Linked DNA regions of Homo sapiens: all the other regions are linked to region 1. Evidence: fine-mapped expression QTL. A gene starts in region 1. Each other region holds a variant in brackets. All regions are shown on one strand. Distances are from middle to middle. Region 1 holds the start of GADD45G (growth arrest and DNA damage inducible gamma). Region 2 overlaps LINC03062 (long intergenic non-protein coding RNA 3062). Region 3 has its middle 22 kb from the start of GADD45G.

Region 1 (2,759 bases):
TAAGATATTTCAACATGGTATAAGACGTAGGGGCTCTTACTCCATCAGTACTGGATGGGAATTTCCTTTTGCCCTCTACTCCCCAGGGTAACTGCAGTCCCACCTGAATGCGTTTTGCAGCCCTTACTCGGGTTCTATTTATGCGCAGCTTGGACAGGGCTCACTGGGCCCGGCCGGGCAGCTCCGTGGCCGTCCCTCTCCACCGCCCTTCCCCCGCGCCAGGCCAATGCAAGGGTGTGTGTGTTGGGGGGAGGGGAGGACAAAAGGGGTTCAGGATCTTTTTAACCTGCCTGCAGATGGCGCCCCGGGAAAGATTCCGAGCTGCATTACCTAAGCTCCAGGGGCTGCAGCCGCGGGGTCCCGGCCACAGGGCGTCCAGCCGCGAAGACTGCACAGCAGCTCTCCGTCCTTCCCAACTCGCGCGGCTGTTCGGCACCCGTGCGAGGAACGGATGGAAGGGAATTACTTGTAGCAGGGCCAGTACTGGGGGCGTGCACTCAGGGACCACGGAGTGGCACTCAGCCTCGACCCCACGCGCCAGGCAGCCCGGCGACCCCCACGCGCGGCGGGGTCCTGCCCACCCCACCCGGCGGCAGGTGGACAGTGTTGCTATGAAGAGAAAGCCTCGATTGTCCCTACAGCAAACCGCCACACGCCAGACCTCTGCTATTGTGCGCCCTCCATAGAAATGCAAACGAGCGGCGTGCGCCGGCCGCAATCTGCTCGTCCCCGCCCGCCCCCGTCTCCCGCGCCCCGCCGCGCTCGGCCAAGGGCGGGGAGGTGGGGTGGGATCTTCCAGAGACGGCTCAATGTACACATTGAGTATGCCTGGCAGGCATCACCAGCGCGCTCGGGACGCTAGTGGTCAGCTGCAGGGGGCTGTGCCCACTGCCTTTTGCAAGCCTCTAACTGGCGCTACCTGTTTTTACCTTAATTTCTGGCTCCAATGCAACAGTCTCATAGACTTCAAATTAAAGAAAAGAAACAAATAGAAAGGTAGCAATACAAAATGCAAAAAAAAATCCCTTTGCTTCTATAAAGGTGCTTTTCGCAAATTGCAGCATCATATAAGCAAACAAGGTTTTTGTGGGTTGGGTTTTTTCTTTTTTTTTTTTTTTTACTTTTTCCTTTTAAGGACTTCAAAAAAAAAAAAAAGCCAGGCGAGATGAAATCTGCAGGCTCCAGTCTGCCTGGTAACACCCCAACAAAAGCGGCAGATTTGAGGCATTGTCATCCCCCGCACCCCTCCCCACGTGGCCTTCTGGCACGAGCCGCTGGCTCGCCGCCTCATTTACATCAGAAAGCGGGTGCCGGCCAATAGGCGCGCAGCCTCGCGCCAGCTGGCGGCGCCGCACCCACCAGCCTATATAAGGGCGCGCAGCGTAGTAGGGGCGCACTCGCTGGTGGTGGGCGCGCCGTGCTGAGCTCTGGCTGTCAGTGTGTTCGCCCGCGTCCCCTCCGCGCTCTCCGCTTGTGGATAACTAGCTGCTGGTTGATCGCACTATGACTCTGGAAGAAGTCCGCGGCCAGGACACAGTTCCGGAAAGCACAGCCAGGTGGGTTTCAGGGCGCTGAGAAAGCCGCTGGTCGGTCGGCGACCGTCAGGGTTTTCCAGGGTGGGAATCCGCGGGGTAGGAGGGGAGCGCGGGGGTCCGGGCGCCAGATCCCGGTTGGAGAGCCGGGGTGCAGGCGCTGAGCCGGGATTGGAGTGTGGTTGGAGTTGGGGAGCCAAGGGTGTGTGCCGGTGGCCGGGGCTGGGGTCTCCGCCGCGCCCTCCGGCCGGCTCCCGCTCACTGCGCTGGCTCCTCCGCAGGATGCAGGGTGCCGGGAAAGCGCTGCATGAGTTGCTGCTGTCGGCGCAGCGTCAGGGCTGCCTCACTGCCGGCGTCTACGAGTCAGCCAAAGTCTTGAACGTGTAAGTGTAGACGCGGCCCAGGCTGGGAGACAGGGGCGGGGGTGAATGGCGAGGAGACTGGCGGATGGGAGGGGTGGCGGCGGGAGAACTCGGCTAGCCGGTTCTGACCTAGGTCCCCGCCTTGCCCTCGCAGGGACCCCGACAATGTGACCTTCTGTGTGCTGGCTGCGGGTGAGGAGGACGAGGGCGACATCGCGCTGCAGATCCATTTTACGCTGATCCAGGCTTTCTGCTGCGAGAACGACATCGACATAGTGCGCGTGGGCGATGTGCAGCGGCTGGCGGCTATCGTGGGCGCCGGCGAGGAGGCGGGTGCGCCGGGCGACCTGCACTGCATCCTCATTTCGGTGAGTACAGTCCCGTCCTGTCCCCGCCCCAGTGTCGTTCCCGCCTCGGCCCGCGGCCAGCCAGGCTGACCCTGCTCTCTCTCCGCAGAACCCCAACGAGGACGCCTGGAAGGATCCCGCCTTGGAGAAGCTCAGCCTGTTTTGCGAGGAGAGCCGCAGCGTTAACGACTGGGTGCCCAGCATCACCCTCCCCGAGTGACAGCCCGGCGGGGACCTTGGTCTGATCGACGTGGTGACGCCCCGGGGCGCCTAGAGCGCGGCTGGCTCTGTGGAGGGGCCCTCCGAGGGTGCCCGAGTGCGGCGTGGAGACTGGCAGGCGGGGGGGGCGCCTGGAGAGCGAGGAGGCGCGGCCTCCCGAGGAGGGGCCCGGTGGCGGCAGGGCCAGGCTGGTCCGAGCTGAGGACTCTGCAAGTGTCTGGAGCGGCTGCTCGCCCAGGAAGGCCTAGGCTAGGACGTTGGCCTCAGGGCCAGGAAGGACAGACTGGCCGGGCAGGCGT
Region 2 (2,759 bases), 60 kb after region 1:
AATGGGCCCAAGAATCCCCAGAACTGGGCTCCGAAATCCTCACTGTCTCCTTGCTGGTCACCAGCAATTGCTGTGACTCACTCTCCTGGTGCTTCTGTGGGCCATCTGGGCACCTTGGGGAAGTCCCAGGGATCCCCAACAGCACTCCTTTCTCCCTGTATGTTCTATCCCACTGCCTTCCCAGGCGGGCCTGGAGGGAAGAGCAGTGGCCAGGTGTCTTCAGGGTCCTGCAGGGCTGATGGGAGTGGTTTCTGTGGGTACTGTGGCTCTCCTGTGTGGGTTTCCTGCCCTGGGCTCTGTGTGTGGGCCTTGATGGGCACTGGGCTGTTCTTCTACCTTGTGGCACCTGGCCCTGTAGAGATGACAATTTCTGAAACAGGAGCATTTCCTCTGAATTCCAAGGAACTTTGCTCAAGGGCCAACTTTGCCTTATGCAGGCTGGAGCCTGAATGCTCGCTCTGCTACCAGCTGTGTGACCTTGTGAAAAGTCCTTAACTTCTCTGGGCCTTACTTTCTCATCGGGATAATATTACAAAAGGCTGCTTGAGAAATGGGATGCTTTCAGAGATAACATAGAATGAAAGCACCGGGCACAGTAAAATTCAACTGCTATTAGTTCCTTTCTCCCTTATTCAAGAAGGAAGGCAGATGAAAGCAGATTTCAGGAATGGCAGCTTGGAGAAGAGGAGAGGGAGTGGGGGTCTAGAAGAGGAGAGGCAGTAGGGGCTATGATAATCCTCTGACATTGGCTGAGAGCCAGCAGTAAGAAAGAGAAACAAGCTGTCCTTCATGTACCCACTGGCTTCTTCCTTGCACCCTCGGGTGCCGAGCTGAGCTGCAGACACCCAGACCTGACAGCCCTTCCTCCAGAGCTGGCGGTCCAGGTGGGGAGTGACATTTGGCTGATTTCTGATTTTGAAACACAGAAACCAGGAGAGTTGAGTTAAACCAGGTTTACCAATGTGAGTGGCTTATTGGCTATAGGTGCCCCAGCCAGGTATGGAAGTCCAGAGCTGGAGGGTGTGTGAGCTCCCTGAATGCAGGGCCAGCCCTGGCAGGCGAGCACACAGCTAATGGTAATGGATGGCATAGGAATACGGAGCCAAGGTTTCTGGCAAGAAAACAATGAAAAATGCACTATCTCTGAATTTTTCTCTGGGACTCAGTTGAATTTTAGTGGTCATGACCAGAAATGAAATTCAACCAGTTGACTGATA[T/G]TTTTAGAAATGCCTCAGGCTTTATCATCTCAACTCTGGGGAGTGAGTATCCCAGAAATCTTGGGAGTGTGGGTCACAGCACCTGAATGTTAGTCCTTTACACCTGTAACATCAGAATTATGGATTCCTGGGTTCCCCTTGCAGAGATTCTAGTTGGGTTGGAGCCTGGGAATCTGTATAAAAATACCTCCCCAGATTTGGAACCACTACCATAGACAATTAAGCAAAGAATGAGGTAAGGCATTCTTTTCTCCAAAATGTAATTTTCTGGGGCCCTGCTAGAGATGTGTCACCTTTCTAGGCCTCTTCTCTGGTGGGAGCTCAGATCCTCCTGAGAAGGGCACGAATGAGAGAGACTCTGACCTTTCCCTCTGTCCTTTGCTCTAAAAACACAGCCCCGTTTAACCGGACAGAGGATGACTTTCTTCTCTGGAGTGCTCTGGGTCACGCTTGGGGACACATGAAGGATACGCCCTCCCTTTCAGGCTCCCATCGCACGTTGAACCTGGCTTGTGAACACAGCCCTCTGGGACACTACTAGGAACAAAGTGTTCCGGATGCTGCAGAAGCTCAGCTGCCACCTGGAAAACCTGTTTGGCCACTTTAGGTCCAGATGACGGGAGCCAGTCCGGCTCAGGAGAACAGAGCTGGCCCAGTAACACCTCGCTTCCTCCCTGCTGCAGAGACCTGGGAGGGCCCTGCCCAGCACAGCACACTGGAGTGGCCCTGCGGCAGCATCTGGGCTGCTGTACCCATGGTGCCTCCCAGCCCGAGGGGCTCCCGGCAGCTCTGGAGACTCCTGCTGTCACGTCACCTGGCCCCTCACCATCACCATCCTCATCTCTCTTGGGTGGGTATGTCCGCACCATTCCTAGCCTCATTTATTTATTTATTTATTTTTGAGACAGGGTCTTGCTCTGTCACCCAGGCTGGAGTGCAGTGGCACCATCTCGGCTTACTGCAACCTCCGCCTCCAGGGGCTCAAGTGATCCTTCCACCTTAGCCTCCTGAGTAGCTGGGACCACAGGTGCACACCACCATGAGCAGCTAATTGCATTTTTGGTAGAGATGGGGTTTCTCCATGTTGCCCATGGCTGGTCTCGAACACCTGAGCTCAAGTGATCTGCCTCCCTTAGCCTCCCAAAGTGCTGGGATTACAGGCGTGCACCACTGCACCTGGCCTCATTTAAAGACTGAGAAAACCAGATCCCAAGAAATTTGCTCACTATTGAGGATAGCTGTCAGCAGACACCAGATTTGGGCATCGAGTTAGCAAGCTCTGGCCGTGTGCTTGAGTACTAGCCCAAAAAACATCCCCAGAGTCATTTGTAGAATGAGTTCTTCTTACTTACCCTTATTAAAAGACTTAAATGTGCATCAATAGTTCCCACAAAAGCCTAGTGTTACTGTTTTAAATACTGAGTTCGTGAGCCAGTCAAAGATTGGGGCTTTCGCTGGTTCATTAGCTTGTTTCATGTTTGGAAGGAGACCCACGTTTATGTCCAGAATGTGATATTCTGTCTATGTGCTGATCTTAGTTTG
Region 3 (2,759 bases), 22 kb before region 1:
AGAGTGTGGATCAATGAATGTGTACGTGGAAGCTACCCAGGGCTGGGGAGAAACCCACACAAAGGATTAGAGGGAGCAGTACTGGGAACTCACACAGGGCTGGGAATAGTGCCTGCTCCCACCAGGCAGGCTGAAAAAAGACAGAATCTATGGGGCACCGGGGATAGTACGCAGAAGGACCTTGCCCCAGTGGTGGGGGATTGTTAGCCCTAGACTTCAATCTGCTCTGGATTCAAATAACAAATCTTAAAACAAGACCTGAAAGCATTGAACTGTTTCTAAGAATCTTAATTGCCTCCTAGAGCAAAGTTAAAAAAGTATTTGTAGGAATACAGAAATAATCTAGTATCCAATGAGGTAAAATGGATTTCTTTTTTTTCAAGATGGAGTCTTGCTTTGTCACCCAGGCTGGAGTGCAGTGGTGTGATCTTGGCTCACTGCAACCTCTGCCTCCCGGGTTCAAGCAATTCTCTGCCTCAGCCTCCTGAGTAGCTGGGATTACAGGTGCCAGCCACCACACCAGGCTAATTTTTGTATTTTTAGTAGAGATGGGGTTTCACCATTTTGGCCAGGCTGGTCTTGAACTCCTGACCTTGTGATCCACCTGCCTCAGCCTCCCAAAGTGCTCGAATTAGAGGCGTGAGCCATTGCGCCCAGCCGGAAATTATTGACATTGAATAGAAAATCACCAGGCCTGTGAAACTTAACCCCAAATGAAGAGAATAATCAATCAACTGAATCTGACCCAAAATTGATGCTGATGTTGGAATCAGCAGATAAGAGCATTAGGATGGTTATTATAATTGTATTTCTTATGTTCAAAAAGCTAGAGGAAGAAAGAAAAAAGACTAAAATTTGGGTAAGAAACTAAAAAGCATCACTGGACTATGGGACAACTATACATGATTGCCATGTATATGGACATGACTATAGTAGATGGACAGACTATCTAAAGACATCCATGTAGACAGACAGACTATCTAAAGAGATTATGACTGAAAAATATCCAAATTTGATGAAGAGTATAAATCTACCACTCCATAAAGTTCAATAAAACCCAAACACAAGAAAAATGAGGAAAATGAATCAAGGCACATCATAATCTAATCTTAAAAGCAACCAGAGAAGCAGCACAAAGGAACAGATGCAGAA[C/A]AAGAGCAGATTTCTCACTGGGAAGGACACGAGAGAACATGGTGGAGCTGCCCCTTTAAAGCGCAGAGCAAAACCCAAACCTTCAACCTAGAATTCCATGCCCAGAGAAAACATCCTTCAAAACTGAAGGTGAAATACACACGTTATCAGACATACAAAAGCAAGACAGTTCTGACCAGCAGAATGACACTGCCAAAAATGTTAAAAGAAGTCTTTGAGGCAGAAGGAAAATGACCCCAGATGGGAAACTGGATCTAAGAACTGAAGAGCTAAGGTAACTTTATAGCAACTCTAAGACCTTTTTCCTATGATTTAAATTTCCTTAAAAGTAATTGTATAAACAAAAATGATAGGGCAGTGTAGGATTTATAATGTATGTATGAGTAAAATGTGTGACAAATATAGCATAAAGCCCTGGATGAGAGAAATGGAAGTATACTATCTTATGGCTCTTACAGAATACATGCAGTGGTATAATATCACTTGAAGAAAGACTAACAGTTTGAAGACAGATACTATAAACCCTATGGCAATCACTAAAACAATAACAACAACAACAACACGACAACACAACAACAACAAAGCTGAAAAAGAAGGGAATCCAACTAATTAATCCAGAAGAAGGCAGCAAAAAGTGAAAATGGAAATAAAGAACTTGGGGCAAATAGAAAACAAATAGTACACAATAAATTTAAACCTAATCATAGCAATAACCCCATTAAATGTATGTGGTCTAAACAAGCCAATGAAAAGGCAGATTCTATTTATCATAGTACTAGAAACACTAGCAAGAGCAATCAGGCAAGAGAAAGAAATAAAAGGCATCCAAATAGGAAAAGAAGAAGCCAAACTATCTCTCTTCATGGGTTATATAATTCTACACCTAGAAAACCCTAGACTCCACCAAAAGGCTGCTAAAGCTGATAAATGACTTACGCAAAGTTTCAGGACACAAAATTAATGTACAAAAATCAATAGCATTACTATAAACCAGTAACATTCAAGCTGAGAGCAAAATCAAGAATGCAATTCTATCTACAATAGGCACACAAACAAAAAATACTCAAGAATATATCTAACCAAGGAGGTGAAAGATCTCTACAAGGAGAACTACAAAACATTGCAGAAAGAAACAACAGATGACAAAAACAAATGGAAAAACATTCCATGCTCATGCTCGTGGATTGGAAGAATCAATATCATTTAAATGGCTACACTGCCCAAAGCAATCTACAGATTCAATGCTATTCCTATCAAACCAACATCATTTTTCATAGAACTAGAAAAAACTCTTCTAAAATTCACAAGGAATCAAAAAAGAGCCCGAATACCTACAGCAATCCAAAGCAAAAAGAACAAAGCCAGAGGCATCATATTACCCAACTTCAAACTATACTACAAGGCTACAGTAACCAACACAGCATGGTACTGGAAGAATGCAGAGAATGAAACTGGACCCACATATAAAGAAAGAAACTGGACTCCTATATAAAATATGCAGAAGAATAAGACTGGACCCCTATATAAAGTATACAAAGCTAACTTTCACCATATACAAAAATTAAGATTAAAGAGGGATTTAGATTAAGATTAAAGAGGGATTAAAG

Evidence for each region. PIP is the estimated chance that this variant, and not a neighbour inherited with it, causes the effect.
Region 2: its variant is the best candidate, but not a certain one, in a credible set for the expression of GADD45G in whole blood (INTERVAL, PIP 0.83).
Region 3: its variant is the best candidate, but not a certain one, in a credible set for the expression of GADD45G in whole blood (INTERVAL, PIP 0.64).

Annotation. Positions count from the first base shown.
Region 1 is chr9:89,603,619-89,606,377 of GRCh38, forward strand. GADD45G (growth arrest and DNA damage inducible gamma) reads left to right here and starts at 1,394. Exons shown (of 4, transcript NM_006705.4): 1 at 1,394-1,556; 2 at 1,814-1,915; 3 at 2,049-2,262; 4 at 2,351-2,759. The coding sequence starts at 1,504. The coding sequence ends at 2,461. LOC105376139 (a long non-coding RNA gene) reads right to left here and starts at 1,398. Exons shown (of 2, transcript XR_930105.3): 1 at 1-1,398. RefSeq lists an enhancer at 205-1,103 and a silencer at 714-763.
Region 2 is chr9:89,663,316-89,666,074 of GRCh38, forward strand. It overlaps LINC03062 (long intergenic non-protein coding RNA 3062), which reads left to right. Exons shown (of 6, transcript NR_024280.1): 2 at 1,613-2,067. Among named protein-coding and RNA genes, the nearest start is that of LINC03062, 25 kb to the left of the region's middle. RefSeq lists an enhancer at 1-69. The variant T/G (reference allele first, on the strand shown) is at 1,218.
Region 3 is chr9:89,582,084-89,584,842 of GRCh38, forward strand. No RefSeq gene overlaps it. Among named protein-coding and RNA genes, the nearest start is that of GADD45G, 22 kb to the right of the region's middle. The variant C/A (reference allele first, on the strand shown) is at 1,153.